Linked DNA regions of Homo sapiens: region 2 is linked to region 1. Evidence: fine-mapped expression QTL. Tissue or cell type: CD4 T cells. Region 1 holds a variant in brackets; the other region holds the start of a gene. All regions are shown on one strand. Distances are between the middles of the regions.

Region 1 (8,175 bases):
TTTGTATTTTAGTAGAAACGGGGTTTCACCATGTTGGCCAAGATAGTCTTGATCTCCTGACCTCGTGATCTGCCCGCCTTGACCTCCCAAAATGCTGGGATTACAGGTGTGAGCCACTGTGCCCGGCCTTTTATTATTTTTTTAATTTTTTTAGAGACAGGGTTTCACTCTAGCCCAAATGAGAGTGCAGCAGAGCCATCATAGCTCACTGTAACCTTGAACTTCTAGGCCCAGGTGACTCTCCCGAATAGCTAGGATTACAGATGTGCACCACCATGCGTGGCTAATTTTTTTCTTTTTTTTTTTTTTTTAGAGACAGGGTCTTACCATGTTGCCCAGGCTGGTTTCAAACTCCTGGCCTCAAGTGATGCTCCCGCCTCGACCTCCCAAAATGCTGGGATTGCAGGCATGAGTCACCACACCCAGCCTGGGGTGACCTCTAGAGGCTGCTGAATCCATTGCCCTGCCTTCTACACTCACTCTTACCCACTCCACCCCTACCTGCAATAGGATTATCTCTGCTGGCGAAACAACCAGCCTCTTTGGAGATGGCAGCCCACCATTTGTCAAGCCAGGAAGACCTTCTGACAGTCTACCTTAAATCTCTCTTTGGTACCCTCAGGGAAAATTGAAACAACGAACAGCAAAAAGATAAATGCATATGGATAGGCAATGCCACACTATTTTTTTAAAATACCCGCAAAGAGGGTGGGAGAGCGGGAATTACCTTCAGACACAATGCTCTTTACACTAAACATCTTGGCGAAAAATATGGCTGTGTAATTCTTTTTTCTCCTTGGCAAAGAGAAAGGCTGAGGCTGGGCAGAAAGGCAGAGGGACCCGAAAATATAAATCAATATGTGACTTTAATATATGTGCTTTCGGTGTCTGTGTGTGCTGGGGGATTATTAGTAACCTTGATTCCAGCTCAGTGTCCATGCGAGGCAGGGAGATGTGCGGCCCCCAGGGAGGAGAAGAGAAATTAGGAAGCCAAATTCTTCTCCTGATTGACACCTGGGTAAACATTATCCTGGCAGAAAGGGAAGAAAAAAAGATCAATGCTGGGTATTTTTATCACGTTCCAGGGACAGACGGGGGGGAAATTAAAGAAACAGTCCCCTAGAATCACTGAATATGCCCATCTTCAAGGAGTAGCTAGATAAGGCGGAACCCAGGTGGAGGAGTATGGGTGGGAGAGAAATGGGCATGTCCCAGGGAGCAGTGGCCATTGCTTCTTCTACCCTGATGTATGTGAGTGGCAGCAGGTACAAAGGAGCCATGGCTTTAGTTGCAGGGTGAAGGCAGCAGCTTTGACGGGGAATCGTAGGCCAGAGTCTAACTCAAATCAGACTTCGGCTTCAACAGAGGCCCAAGAGGCATTTGTCTTAATGGGATTTGTCAGGGGGCTGTTTCTAGTGGAAGATTCCTGGAGTGTGGGAAGGGGGCAGTGGCTGCAGGAGGGGCTGGGTGTAGTGAGTGATCCAGTGTGGGTCAATGCCCATGGGGAAGCAGGGACATCTCTCTGGATTGTCTCAGATCTAGAGTCAGGAAAACCTGGGCCTCCACCCCTTCCTGGCTATATGACCTTGACCAAGTCATCTGACCTCATAGAGTCTCACCTTCCCTGTCTGTAAAATAGAGGCAGGTGGCCCCTACCCCACTGGTCTCAGAGTTTTTAAAAGAGATTATACAAAACACTGGACAGGGCTGAGGGGCTATTGTTATCTGGGGAGCCCTGCCCACTAGAAATATACTGTAAGCCACATATACACTTAAAAAAATTTTTTTAAACTAATTTGTTTAAGAGACAAGGTCTCCGTCTGTGGCCCAGGCTGCAGTGCAGCGGCACAATCATAGCTTATTACAGCCTCAACCTCCTGGGCTCGAACAATCCTCTCACCTTAGCCTCCTGAGCACCTGGCTAGTTTTGGGGGATTTTTTGCTTGTTTATTTGTTTGTATTTTTTGTAGAGATGGGGCTCTCACTATGTTGCCCGGACTGGTTTCAAATTCCTGGCCTCAAGTGATCCTCCCACCTCAGTCTCCCAAAGTGTTGAGATTACAGGAATGAGCCCCTGCACCCAGCCCATATATGTACTGTTAAATGTTCTGTTGTTGTTGTTGTTGTTGTTGTTGTTGTTGTTGACGACGGAGTTTCGCTCTTGTTGCCCAGGCTGGAGTGCAATGGCGCAATCTCCACTCACCGCACCTCTGCCTCCTGGGTTCAAGTAATTCTCCTTCCTCAACCTCCCGAGTAGCTGGGATTACAGGCATACGCCACCATGCCCGGCTAATTTTGTATTTTTCATAGAGATGGGGTTTCTCCATATTGGTCAGGCTGGTCTCGAACTCCCAACCTCAGGTGATCCACCCACCTTGGCCTCCCAAAATGCTGGGATTACAGGCATGAGCCACCATGCCAGGCCAATGTACTGTTTTTGGTTTTTTTTTTTGAGACGGAGTCTCGCTCTGTCGCCAGGCTGGAGTGCAGTGGTGTGATCTCGGCTCACTGCAACCTCTGCCTCCTGGGTTCAAGCAATTCTCCTGCCTCAGCCTTCTGAGTAGCTGGGACTACAGGCGAGCACTGCCACGCCCTGCTTATTTTTGTACTTTTAGTAGAGACGGGGTTTCACCATGTTGGCCAGAATGGTCTCCATCTCTTGACCTCATGATCCGCCTGCCTCGGCCTCCCAAAGTGCTGGGATTACAGGCGTGAAGCACCGCACCCGGCCAATGTACTGTTAAATGTTCTAATAGTCACATTTAAAAAAGTAAAAACAGGCCAGGCACGGTGTTCACGCCTGTAATCCCAACACTTTGGGAGGCTGAGGCAGGAGGATCAGTTCAAGACCAGCCTGGGCAACATAGGGATATGTCACGTCTACAAAAAAAGTAGCCAGGAGTGGTGGCGCATACCGTAGTCTCAGCTACATGAGAGGCTGAGCTGAGAGGATCACTTGAGCCTAGGAGGTCGAAGCTGCAGTGAGCTGTGATTGCACTGCTGCACTCTAGGCAACAGAGTGAGACCCTGTCTAAAAAAAAAAAAAAAAAATGTGAAAAGAAACACTTCAAATTAATTCAAATTAAATATGTATTATATTATATATAATATATATAGTATATATTATATATATTATATATTATATATAGTATATAATATATATA[A/TAA]TATTATATATATTATATATATATATTATATATATTTTTTGAGACAGTTTCATTCTTGTTGTCCAGGCTGGAGTGCAATGGTGCAGTTTCGGCTCACTGGAACCTCCACCTCCCAGGTTCAAGTGATTCTCCTTCCTCAGCTTCCCGAGTAGCTGGGATTACAGGCATGCACCACCACGCCTGGCTAATTTTCTATTTTTAGTAGAGATGGGGTTTCTTCATGTTGGTCAGGCTGGTCTCAAACTCCTGACCTCAGGTGATCTGCCCACCTCGGCCTCCCAAAATGCTGAGATTACAGGTGTGAGCCACTGCGCCCGGCCTCAAATAATATTTTTTAACTTAACCCAATATATCTAAAATATCATTTCAGCATGTGGCACTAGCCACATTCCAGGTGCCCTGAAGCCACATGTGGCAGGAGCTACCGCACCGGGCCAGCAGAGATCTGGAATGAGAAGCCCACAGGATAGGAGCTTCTGCCCCGACCCCTGCCCCCTCCCTGTGATAGTGAGGAGGGACCTCTGGAGGCAGAAGGTGAAGTGAGCCCCTGAGAAATACAGGGCAGAGCCCCCCTTTTGCTGGGGGTGGGAGCAACTTTCTGGCCTCTGAGGCATTACAGTGCCCCAGCAGGGGCTCTCTGGGGGAGGCAGACTAATGACCACTTCGCCAGGATAGGGGCCGGGCTGGGGCAGACACTGAGCTCTCCTTTCCAGAGTCTCCTGGCAACTAGAGCAGCTGGTTTGGAGGGAAGAGCCTGACAGCTGGGCTTGGGTACTTCTCATTCCCAGTCAGTGCCTAGTCTTCTGGCTGTAGCATCTAAGGTAAGGCCCCTCTTGGAACTGCACCATCACTCAAATGGGAATAGCTGTGATCAACCCTGCTTTAAAGGCTGTAAAAAGGTTTCTTATACAAAGACAGTATGCTTGTAAGCCATGAACGTGCGCGAGGAAAAGAGAAAGTGAGGAGGGAGGGAGGGAGCCCCTTTTGAGGCCGCCCCTCCCTTGGTTGGCTATTGCTGGCTGTACTCCCAGAGTCTGCAGGGGCCCTCCAACTTCAGTGGGAGGCTGGAGAAAGAGGGTAGGATGGGCGGCCCAGAAAGGGTGTGATTTTCTGAGAGCCACACAGCACATCCAGCAGTGGGTGAGCTGGACACGCTGGGGTGGGGCCAGGATACCCAGGACCTCCTTCTCAGCTGCTCTAGGCGCGAGGGTTTGTGGGAAGGAGTGGACAGGGCTATTTCAGGGCAATGCAAAGGCAGCCGAGTGCTGGCTGGGAGGCCCTCGTGGGTCTAGTCTGACATTTTCTGCTGATGCTGGGAGCCAGGGAAGGGGACCTGGAAACCTGAATCTCACACCTGGGCCAGCTGATCTTGTGCCCAAGTGGTCCCAGCCCCTACTTCCCACTGGTCTTCCCTGTCCTAGCTGCACAATTGCCCTGCCTGGGGAGGAGTGTGGAGAGAAGCACCAGGCTACCCCAGGACCAAGCCCCCAGCCCACCTGCCAGGTCCCGAGAGCCACAGTGAGCCCTCAGTTATATCTTTGTTTTTGTTTTTGTTTTTGAGTTTCACTCTTTCCAGGCTGGAGTGAAGTGGCGCAATCTTGGCTCACTGCAACCTCCGCCCCCAGAATTCAACGATTCTCCTGCCTCAGCCTCCGGAGAAGCTGGATTATAGTCAAACCACCATACCCGCTAATTTTTGTATTTTTAGTAGAGACGGGGTTTTGCCATGTTGGCCAGGCTGGTCTTGAACTCCTGACCTCAGGTGATCAACCTGCCTCAGCCTCCCAAAGTGCTAGGATTACACTTTGAGGTGCCCAGCCCCTCAGTTATTTCTTTTGCAGACTGCAACTAAGGGATAGATCTGGGATTTAACTTTATTTATTTATTTATTTATTTATTTATTTATTTATTTATTTTTAGACAGGATCTCCCTCAGTCACCCAGGCTGGAGTGCAGTGGCACAAACATGGCTCATGGCAGCCTCAACATCCTGGGCTCAAGAGATCCTTCCACCTCAGCCTCCCAAGTAGCTGGGACCCTAGGCACGCAACACCACATCTAGCTAATTTTTTGTATTTTTGGTAGAGACCAGATTTTGCCACGTTACCCAGGCTGGTCTCAAACTCCTGGGCTCAAATGATCTGCCTGCATCAGCCTCCCAAAGTGCTGGGATTATAGGTGTGAGCCACCTGGCCCAGCCTCTTCTTTTACTTATTTATGTATTTATTTTTACACAGGGTCTTGCTCTGTCACCCAGGATGGAGTACAGTGGCATGGTCATAGCTCACTGCAGTCTACAACTGCTGGACTCAAGTGATCCTCCCTCCTCAGCCTTGCAAGTAACTAGGACTACAGGTGCATGCACCTGTAGTGCATTAGCACAGCGAGCTAATTTTTTTTCTTTTTTTGTGCAGATGGGGCTTCTCAATGTTGCCCAGGCTGACCTTGGACTCCTGGCCTCAAGTAATTCTCCCACCTCTGCCTCCCAAAGTGTTGTGATGACAGGTGTGAGCCACTGCACTTGGCCTTTCTTTTTTTTTGAAACGGAGTTTTGCTCTTGTTGCCCAGGCTAGAGTGCAATGGCACAATCTCGGCTCACTGCAACCTCCCCCCTCCCAGGTTCAAGCGATCCTCCTGCCTCAGCCTCCTGAGTAGCTGGGATTACAGGCATGCACCACCATGCTTGCCTACTTTTGTATTTTTTAGTAGAGACAGGGTTTCTCCATGTTGGTCAGGCTGGTCTCGAACTCCCAACCTCAAGTGATCCGCCCGCCTTGGCCTCCCAAAATGCTGGGATTACAGGCATGAGCCACCGCGCCCGGCCTTTCTTTCTTTCTTCTTCTTCTTCTTCTTTTTTTTTTTTTTTTTTTTTGAGATAGAGTCTTACTCTGTTGCCCAGGCCAGAGTGCAGTGGCATAATCTTGGCTCACCACAACCTCCACCTCCCAGGTTCAAGCGATTCTCCTGCCTCGGCCTCCCGGGTAGCTGGGACTACAGGCATGTGCCACCATGCCCAGCTAATTTTTGTATTTTTAGTAGAGACAGGGTTTCGCTATGTTGGCCAGGCTGGTCTTGAACTCCTGACCTCGTGATCTGCCTGCCTCAGCCTCCCAAAGTGCTGGGATGACAGGTGTGAGTCACCACACCTGCCATTTCTTTCTTCTTGTTTCAGGTTTCTTCCTTCTTGGTTCCATCCTACAAAGAACTGTTTCCATAGACATCCTCTCTGTACAGCTACTTTCAGCCTATTCTTCCCAGTTAGAGACTTACAGTGATTCCTAGTGTCTACCAAATTCCCTTTCAAACTCCTTGGTTTGGGATTCCAAGAGCCCTTCACCATCAAGCTCTTTCCACCTGACACAAACAGTAACCTTGTTTCCGGCCCAACTTGCTGTGCCAACTGGCCCTGCCTAAGGCTGTCCAGCCTCTCTGCCTTTGCCTGGGCCGCTTCTCCTCCTGCAACATCCTTCTTCCTCTCCACACCCAATTCTGCTGATTGAAATCCATCCATTCTGAAAGACCTGGCTCAAATGCCACCTCTTCTGGGAGGAATCCTTACCAGGTAGCCTCATCAGAAATGCTTGCCCTCCTCTGATCCATCTCCCGTAGCCCCTTGCATGTCCCAGGCCCTGGATCTTTCTCTCTCACAGCCTCAGACTCCCGGTAAGCCTCTGGAAATGGAAGCCCCTGGAGGGCAGAGCTATCCCAGCTGTCCATGAGTCCTCTCGGAACCCATTTCCCACCATTGCACTTCCTGCCCTGCTCGCTCCCCACCCCAAGGTAACACCAAGGTCGGATGTGAGAAAAAAATAGATGAAACAAGATTTTGCACATCACATTGTAAAACCCGCTCAGGCGCTCCCCTCCTCCCAATATTCTTACTGGACTCCCGCCTACCCTTGGCTCTGGTCCCTCTGGCTCCTCCCCATCCACCCAGTCCAGATGTCCAAGCCTGAGCAGCTCACCTGGAGAGACACCGTGTCTCTGTCTCCATCTCTTAGTCTGGGTCTCTGTCTGTGCTGCCAGTAGACCTCTGGCCTCCCCCATCAGACTGGGATCACTGGGAATGTGAGGACCTACCTTTTTTTGTCTTTGTCTCCTTTTCCCATCCCATTCAGTGGAGGATTTCAAAAAGCTTTGGAGACACACTTAACAAGATAAAAAATGAGAGAGGAAGCTGGAGGTGGGAGAGGTCCTGCTTCCTCCTCCCCCAGCCTCGGTCTCTGGCACCTTGCCAAGGTCACCTTTCAGAGCAACCTATCACGGGCCTTTGTCAGGATCATTCATCCTCCTTTCCAGCGCCCTCCGCCCTTGCCAACCCACCAGACTCTGTTGCCACTCCAGGCCCTGCCGCCACTCCAGGCCCTGCCAGCCCCAGCTCGCCTTACCAGTCCCTCACGCTCCAACTCTCTCCCTCTCCCCCCCATCTGCAACCACAGCACATCACAGCTGTCTGATTAGCTCAATTGATTAATTAAGCTCTAATGAGAGCCGTGACTCACCCCTACAGCTGCTGACCAGGAGGCCAGCCGTGCCCAGAAGGCCACTGAGGCTGCAGACATGGTCTTATGAGGGCCCAGGGGCAGGCAGCTCAGTGGTTGGTACCACTGAGCCATTTGCAGGGCACAAAGCTTGCCCATGGCTAGGTCTCTCCAAAAGCCTCCATGGTGAGGGGTGGGCAGAGGGGTTGCTCCCTCAACCAATCAGTGAGTTCCAGGATCTGGCACCAACTCTGCTGAAGTCAGGGAGGGCAGAGCAGACATTGATTGGCTGAGAGGTGCAGGGAGGGGAGTAGATCCCTTCAGAGTCCCACCTTGACTCCTGGGGCTTAGCATGCCCCAGGCCCAGAGGATAGTGAGCGTGGGGAAGCTGGGCACTGGCCAGAGGAACCAGACTTAGCCCTGCCAGCAGCCACCAACCCTGTGGTTTCTTTGCTCTGTCGCCCAGGCTGGAGTGCAATGCTGCGATCTTGGCTTACTGCAACCTCCATCTCCCAGGTTCAGTCGATCCT
Region 2 (8,175 bases), 38 kb before region 1:
CTAGGTAGAAAGTCCAGGTGCCTGAGACTTGGGTGCTTTTGAGGTATGGCAATGAGAATGATATGACTTAGGACTGGAGCTTAGAAAGTGAGGAGTGTGTGCCTGTGGTTCCAGCTATTCAGTGGGAGGCTGAGATGGGAGGATCACTTGAGCCTGGGAGGCAGAGGTCACAGTGAGCCAAGATCGTGCCACTGCACTAACCTGGGTAACAGAGTGAGACCCTGTCTCAAAAATAAATAAATAAATAAATAAATAAATAAACGTACAGAAAATAAATTTAAAACCAGGAGCCAAAGGAGTCATCTCTAATGGACTCAGGGTTGTTCATCAAACAAAATGAGAAGCAGAACTGTATTCCAGGCATCATGCTAAATGCTAAGGACACAGAGGTGACTGAGATGCAGGCCACTCTCAGGATAAAATGAGATTGTGTAAGTAGCTACAGCCAGCTCAAAGTTTCTTATTGCCATCCTGAATCATGAAAGACATATATTTGAGCTGAAAAAGCCCTTGATGGCATCACATGGAAACTCCAAAGCCCAAGTTTCATTATGGAGGAGGTGCCTGGGTTGAAGGCCCTGTAGCAGCCCTTCACCCTTTCCTATGGGATCTTCCTGGGGCAGAGGTGCAGCTGCTTTTGGCAAATCGGACCACAAGGATACCTCCTTGGAAGACAAGGCTCTCACTTGTACATGAATAGTTATAATACTGTAAGGCAGTATCTGAGAAAAGTAGGGTCATCTGGACGGTTTCCTAACACTGTGTCCCAGGAAGATCCAGATAATTTGGGGGGACAGGCCAGGCCTGTTCCTATCCCTGTCTTGGCCAGCCATGATTACTGGTGGGAGTCTGGGTATCCCTTGGATGTGTCAGGAGTAGGGAAAAGGGTGAGAACCACAGGATTAGGTTAGCTATACATTGTTTGATCAAGGAAGGGAATTGAGCCATTAAATCTGGCTCTATAAAATAGAATTAGATTTGTTCTGTATGGCCCCACGGTTTAAAACTAGGAGAGATACTGCCTAAGAAAGAACTTTCTAACTGCCAAGACTGGACTTGAAAAAATAACAACTGTCAGCCAGGTGTGGTGGCTCACACCTGTAATCCCAGCACTTTGGGAGGCTGAGGCAGGCAGATCGCCTGAGGTTGGGAGTTCGAGACCAGCATGGCCAGCATGGTGAAACCCCATCTCTACTAAAAATGTAAAAATTAGCCTGGCATGGTGGCAGGCACCTGTAATCCCAGCTACTAGGGAAGCTGAGGCAGGAGAATCACTTGAACCCGGGAGGCGGAGGTTGCAGTGAGCTGAGATCACGCCATTGTACTCCAGCCTAGGCAACAGAGCCAGACTCTGTCTCAAAAAAAAAAATAAATAAAACTGTCTTGAGTGGCAGTGAGTTCCCCAACATGGGACATGTACATGTATACATGGCAGAGATAATGTGGAAGAGATTCAAATACTGGCAGGGTGTTTGTACCAAATGGCCCTTTTGGACACAAGATGGAATCCTTTTTATTGGGTGATGGCAGTAGGTCTCCTTGACTGTTGAAGTCAGGAAGAAAGCTTTCAGGGACTCAGGTGATCTGAGAAAGATGTTAAATTACTTAATTCCTCAATATACTGAATCCCTACTGTGCAGGGCACTGGGTATTGTAGTAGTAGATAGGCAAGATTCCTACCTTAAAGGAAGTAGAGAATAGAGATACAGTTTAAGGAAAGGGAAGGGAGACAGGGTAGGTGTTAATTAAAAACTTCCTGCTGGTGAGGCACCGTGGCTCATGCCTATAATCCCAGCACTTTGGGAGGCCGAGGTGGGTGGATCACCTGAGGTCAGGAGTTTGAGACCAGCCTGGCTAACATGCCAAACCCCATCTCTACTAGAAATACAAAAATTAGCCAGATGTGCTGGGCATGGTGGCTGACGCCTGTAATCCTAGCACTTTGGGAGGCCGAGGTGGGTGGATCACCTAGGTCAGGATTTCCAGACCAGCCCGGCCAACGTGGTGAAACCCCATCTCTACTAAAAATACAAAATTAGCCGAGTGTGGTGGTACATGCCTGTAATCCTAGCTACTTGGGAGGCTGAGGCAGGAGAATCGCTTGAACCCGGGAGGTAGAGGTTGCAGTGAGCCGAGATCATGCCACTGCACTCCAGCCTGGGCAACAAGAGCAAAACTCCATCTCAAAAGCAAAACAAATTAGCTGGATGTGGTGGCGCACACCTCTAGTCCCAGCTACTCGGGAAGCTGTGGCAGGAGAATCGCTTGAACCTGGGAGGCAGAGGCTGCAGTGAGCCAAGATCCTGCCACTGCACCCCAGCCTGGGCAATAGAGCGAAACTCTGTCTCAACAAACAAACAAACAAACCAAACAAAAAAAAAACAAAAACAACTTCCTGCTATATGTGAGGCATAACTAGATAACTAGTTTTTTTTTTTTTTTTTTTTTTTTTTTAACTGGAGACAGAGTCTTGCTGTAGTCTCCCAGGCTGGAGTGCAGTGACCGGATCTTGGGCTCACTGCAACCTCCACCTCCCGGGTTCAAGCAATCCTCCTGCCTCAGCCTCCCGTGTAGCTGGGATTACAGGCATTCACCACCACGCCCGGCTAATTTTGTATTTTTAGTAGAGACGGGATTTTGCCATGTTGGCCAGGCTGGTCTCAAACTCCTGACCTCAGGTGATCCACCCGCCTTGGCCTCCCAAAGTGCTGGGATTACAGGCGTGAGCCACAGCGCCCGGCCTAGATGCTTTATTTTTTTTGAGGCAAGGTCTCGTTTTGTTGCCCAGGCTGGAGTGCAGTGGTACCATCATGGCTCTCTGCAGCCTTGACCTCCTGGGCTCAAGCCATCCTCCTGCCTCAGCCTCCCGAGTAAATGAGACCACACTGTCACCATGCCTGGCTAGTTTGTTTTTTGTTTTTTTTTTTTGTAGAGATCGGGGGTTAGTCTCACTCTTGTTTAGGCTGGTCTCGAACTCCTGGGCTCAAGTGATCCTCCCAAAGTGCTGAGATTACAGGTGTGAGCCACCGTGCCCGGCTTTTATGTATTCTTTCAACAACGCTGCACGGCTGCGATTATCCCCACTTTGAGAGGAGACAGGATGAGAGGCTGAGTGGCTTGCTAGGCTTGTATGGACAGGATGCGGGCTCTGCAATCACATGACTTTGTATGAGAGGGCAAATGGATTAACCGCTAAACATAGTTTCCTGTTGTGTAAAATGGGGATGATGATAGTATCCACCCTGCGGACTGTGCGGGCTGAGATAATCCCACAAAGTGCTCTTAGGACCTGGCAGGTGGAAAGTGCTCATGATCACCTCTGCCAAGGCTGCACAAGTAGCGAGTGGCCGAGCTTTATATCCGAAGTTAGGACCCTGCAGTTTTGCCCCTCTCCTCTCTCTCCCTCTCCTTCCCGGCTCCGGGGAAAGGAAAATTTATGGCTCCGGGTCGGGGGTTGCGGGGGACCTCTGTGCCGTGCTCCGGGGCCGAGCTCTCCCCGCCGGCCTCTCCCGCGTCCGTCCGGCCGCCCTCCCGCCCAACCTCTCCCGCCCAACCTCTCCCGCGTCCGCCCGCCCGCCCAACCTCTCCCGCGTCCGCCCGCCCGCCCAACCTCTCCCGCGTCCGCCCGCCCGCCCAACCTCTCCCGCGTCCGCCCGCCCGCCCAACCTCTCCCGCGTCCGCCCGCCCGCCCAACCTCTCCCGCGTCCGCCCGCCCGCCCAACCTCTCCCGCGTCCGCCCGCCCGCCCAACCTCTCCCGGCCCCGCCCGCCCGCCCGCCCAACCTCTCCCGGCCCCGCCCGCCCGCCCGCCCAACCTCTCCCGGCCCCGCCCGCCCGCCCGCCCAACCTCTCCCGGCCCCGCCCGCCCGCCCGCCCAACCTCTCCCGGCCCCGCCCGCCCACCCAACCTCTCCCGGCCCCGCCCGTCCAACCTCTCCCGGCCCCGCCTGCTGGCCGGACGTCCGGTCTGCAGGCGCGCGCTCCCGAGGTCCCGCCTCGCCCGCTGAGCCGGCCTGTAAGCGCTGCGGAGATTGGGCTAGAGGCGGAGGCCTGGGCCACGGCGGAGGCGCTGGGTACGTAGCGCGCCACGCGGGCCGGTGAGAGCCAGCCGGGCGCCGGGGAGGGGGCGGGCCCTGGCCGCGGCTGCTACGCGGGGCTGCCACCGCCCCGGGCGACCCAATTTCGCGGCCTAGTGGGGCGTACGGGCCTCTTTTGAAAGCCTGAGTTACGATGTATTGAGCGCGTCGTATGCGGCCAGCACTAAGGCAAGTGCTTTTATATCCACGGCCCATTGTCTTGACAGCAACCCTACCAAGCAACGTGTTATTTCCTCTGTTTTACGGCTGAGGACGCGCAGGAAGGTTTACAGCTAGAAAGGGCTGGAGATTGTGGATTCAAACTCAGGATCAGACCAAAGCCACTGCCCTTTAGAACTTTGCGGGCCGATTGATTCTTGAATCTAGCTTCTGCCACTTCAGTTGTGTGACCTTGGGGTATCTTTCCGATCCCAAGTTTGCTCATCTGAAAAATGGGAATAAAGCTACAGTATCTGTCCCATAGGGTGGGTATAAAGTGCTTTACTGTTGAGCTGAGTGATCATCTCCGATTTTCAGACCCCTCTCCTCCGCTTCCCTCTCCCCTGGGAGGCCAGTTAAGGTTTTAGTGAAGGCCCCCGGGACTGGGGCGGCGTGGATCTCACGCCCACCAACTAGTGAGGGAGGCCATCCGGCCACCCGTCTCTTCCTTCCCCAGCTCCGCAAAGGAGGCGTTGGCATTTCAGGTGTTTGCTTACAGAGTTTTCAAAGATTTTTCACTCTCCCTTAGTTGTGGGAAAATGATTCAACCTACCCAAGTGAACTTTGACATTAAGTCTCAATTCTAACGGTGAGGAAATGGAAGCCTTTGAATATGTTTTATGTCTTAAACGTGTTTGTTTTTGCAGGAGGGAGAGTGCTCATTTTACCTGAATAAATCAAGATTGAGTTGGTGTGGCACAGTGCTGGCATAGGCCTGGGGAAAGGGGTGAAATGCTAGAGATCTGGTAGATGGATAGAAAGTGGACAGACGGGTTCGGGTGGTTTTTGTCTCAGCAGGGCCCTAAATTCCCACCAAATCCTCCTCTGTCTGTCTTCACCAAGGTCTGAATCTGTCCCCTTGGTAAATAACGTTTAAATGGTCTCCGAGCCCCTCTTGGTGCCTGTACCTTAAGGAGAGAAGAAGAGGGCTGATAGCTGAAGGCAGGCAAGCCACGAACTTAGCTTTGTTTTGAAAATTACCCTCTGGGCCGGGCACGGTGGCTCACGCCTGTAATCCCAGCGCTTTGGTAGGTTGAGGAGGGTGGATCACCCGAGGTTAGGAGTTCGAGACCAGCCTGGTCAACATGGTGAAACCCCCGTGTCAACTAAAAATGCAAAAAAATTAGCCGGACATGGTGGTGCATGCCTGTAGTCCCAGCTACTCGGGAGGCTGAGGCAGAAAAATCGCTTGAACCCGGGAGGCTGAGGTTGCAGTGAGCCGAGATCGTGCCACTGCACTCCAGCCTGGGCAAGAGAGTGAGACTCCTTCTCAAAAGAAAGAAAGAAAGAAAAAATTACCTGCTGGGAGGCCGAGCGCGGTGGCTCACGCCTGGTAATCCCAGTATTTTGGGAGGCTGAGGCAGGCAGATCACCTGAGGTCAGGAGTTTGAGACCAGCCTGGCCAACATGGTGAAACTCCATCTCTACTAAAAATACAAAAAAATTAGCTGGGTGTGGTGGCGGGTGCCTGCAATCCCAGCTACTCAGGAGGTCGAGGTAGGAGAATCACTTGAACTCAGGAAGCAGAGGTTGCAGTGAGCTGAGATCGTGCCACTGCACTCCAGCCTGGGTGACAAGAGCAAGACTCTGTTTCAAAAAAAAAAAAAAAAAAAAAAAGGAAAAGAAAAAGAAAATTACCTGCTGGCACAGTTTTAGATTGATAGCTTTAGATTGAAACTTTCACATTTTTATTTTGAAGATTACAGAGGATAAAAGTTCTGGTTAATTGTGAATGTTGATATTTTAAAATAAAGCTGTTAAAATCCTCATTTAAACCTGCAGTGAAGTCTAAATATACACCATTTGATTTGATTTCCCTCATCTTTTGAAAAAAAAAAAAAGAACCACTTTTTATTTAACCATCGAAATTTCAAATCGTTCTTTTTTTCCTTTATTTTTTCCGAGATGGGATCTTGCTCTGTTGCTCAAGCTGGAGTGCAGTGGCAGTCACTGGTTACTGCACCCTTGACCTGCTGAGCTCAATCCTCCCACCTTAGCCACCAAAGTAACTAAGAGTACGGGTGTCTGTCACCACATATGGCTGATTTTTCTTTTTATTTTTAGTAGAGACGAGGTCTTGCTATGTTGCCCCGGCTGACTCCTGGTCTCAAGTGATCCTTGCATCTCAGCCTCCAAAAGTGCTGGGATTAGAGGTGTAAGCCACCATGCTTGGCCCTTTTTCCTTCTTGAACTCATATTTCCACTTTGTTTCCTCACAGAAGTTTTTTCTAATGTAATAGTTTTTGTTTTTTTGAGACAGGGTCTCTGTCACCCAGGCTGTAGTGCAGTGGCGGGATCACAGCTCACTGCAGCCTTGACCTCTTGGGCTCAAGCAATACTCCCACCTTAGCTTCCCCAGTAGCTGGGACTGCAGGCTTTCGCCACCATGCTCAGCCAATTTTTTTTTTCCAAATGAAAGCAAGATTATTAGGAAAATAATGGAATAAAGAATGGCTACACCATAGGCAGAACAGCCCTTGTGCTGCTGGTTGGCTATTTTTATGGTTCTTTCTTTCTTTTTGAGACAGAGTCTGTCTCACTCTGTCACCCAGGCTGGAGTGCAGTGGCGCAGTCTTGGCTCACTGCAGCCTCTACCTCCTAGGTTCAAATGCTTCTCAAGCCTCAGCCTCCTGAGTAGCTGGGATTACAGGTGCATGCCACCACGCCTGGCTAATTTTTGTTTTGTTTTTCTTTGAGATGGAGTCTCGCTCTGTCACCCAGGCTGGAGTGCAGTGGCACGATCTCGGCTTACTGCAACGTCTGCCTCCCGGTTTCAAGCGATTCTTCTGCCTCAGCCTCCTGAGTAGCTGGGACTATGGGCATGTACCACCATGCCTGGCTATTTTTGTATTTTTAGTAGAGACGGGGTTTCACCATATTGGCCAGGCAGGTCTCAAACTCCTGACCTCGTGATCCGCCCTCGGCCTCCCAAAGTGCTGGGATTACAGGCATGAGCCAACATGCCTGGCCTAATTTTTGTATTATTAGTAGAGATGGGCTTTTGCCATATTGGCCAGGCAGGCTGGTCTCAAACTCCTGGCCTCAAGTGATCTGCCTCCCAGAGTGCTGGGATTCCAGCTAATTTTTTTTTTTTTCCATTTTTTTGTAGAGACAGAGTCTCACTATGTTGCCCAGGCTGGTCTTGAACTCCTGGCCTCAAGTGATCCTCCTGCCTTGACTTCCCAAAGTGCTGGGATTATATGCATGAGATACTGTGCCTGACCATGTAATAATACATTTTATGCCTGAAAGCCTTTGGTTTATCATATTTCTCTGCAACAAAAATACATACAAAATTAAAACTTTTTTAAAATTGTGTTATCATGAGTATTAAATGTTTCTTTTGGATTGAGTTGTCACAATTATAAAATACACAATTGATAAAAACAATGTTAACAAAGTTTTATTTGAGTATTTCTCTTAATAAGCTAAGTGGGCCGGGTGTGGTGGCTTATGCTTGTAGTCTCAACATTTTGGGAGGCCAAAGCAGGCAGATTACTTGAGCTCAGGTGTTTGAGACTAGCCAGGGGCCAGACGCGGTGGCTCACGCCTGTAAACCCAGCACTTTGGGAGGCCAAGGTGGGCGGATCACAAGGTCACAAGTTCAAGACCAGCCTGACCAACATGCCGAAACCCCGTCTGTACTAAAGATACAAAAATTAGCTGGGTGTGGTGGCGTGTGCCTGTAATCCCAGCTACTGGGGAGGCTGAGGCAGGAGAATCATTTGAACCGGGAGCCGGAGGTTGCAGTGAGCCAAGATCGCGCCACTGCATTCCAGCCTGGGCAACAGGGTGAGACTCCATCTCAAAAAAAAAAAAAAAAAAAGAGACTAGCCAGGGCAACCCAGCAAAACCTCATCTCTACAAAAAATTTTTAAAAAT

Which allele goes with the higher level. Alleles are on the strand shown, and positions count from the first base shown. SD is a standard deviation of normalised expression in the study named.
With allele A in place of TAA in region 1, the expression in CD4 T cells of the gene that starts at base 3,992 in region 2 is higher (moderate effect, 0.61 SD a copy in CEDAR).

The links. PIP is the estimated chance that this variant, and not a neighbour inherited with it, causes the effect.
Region 2: DCAKD starts here. The variant in region 1 is fine-mapped to the expression of DCAKD in CD4 T cells (CEDAR, PIP 0.95).

What each region holds. Positions count from the first base shown.
Region 1 is chr17:45,009,297-45,017,471 of GRCh38, reverse strand. It overlaps LOC107987243 (a long non-coding RNA gene), which reads left to right and starts at 3,471. Exons shown (of 6, transcript XR_007065771.1): 1 at 3,471-3,985. RefSeq lists an enhancer at 4,062-4,848. The variant A/TAA (reference allele first, on the strand shown) is at 3,165.
Region 2 is chr17:45,047,449-45,055,623 of GRCh38, reverse strand. It overlaps DCAKD (dephospho-CoA kinase domain containing), which reads left to right and starts at 3,992. Exons shown (of 5, transcript NM_001288655.2): 1 at 3,992-4,263. RefSeq lists a silencer at 3,852-4,351 and enhancers at 7,437-7,967, 7,968-8,175.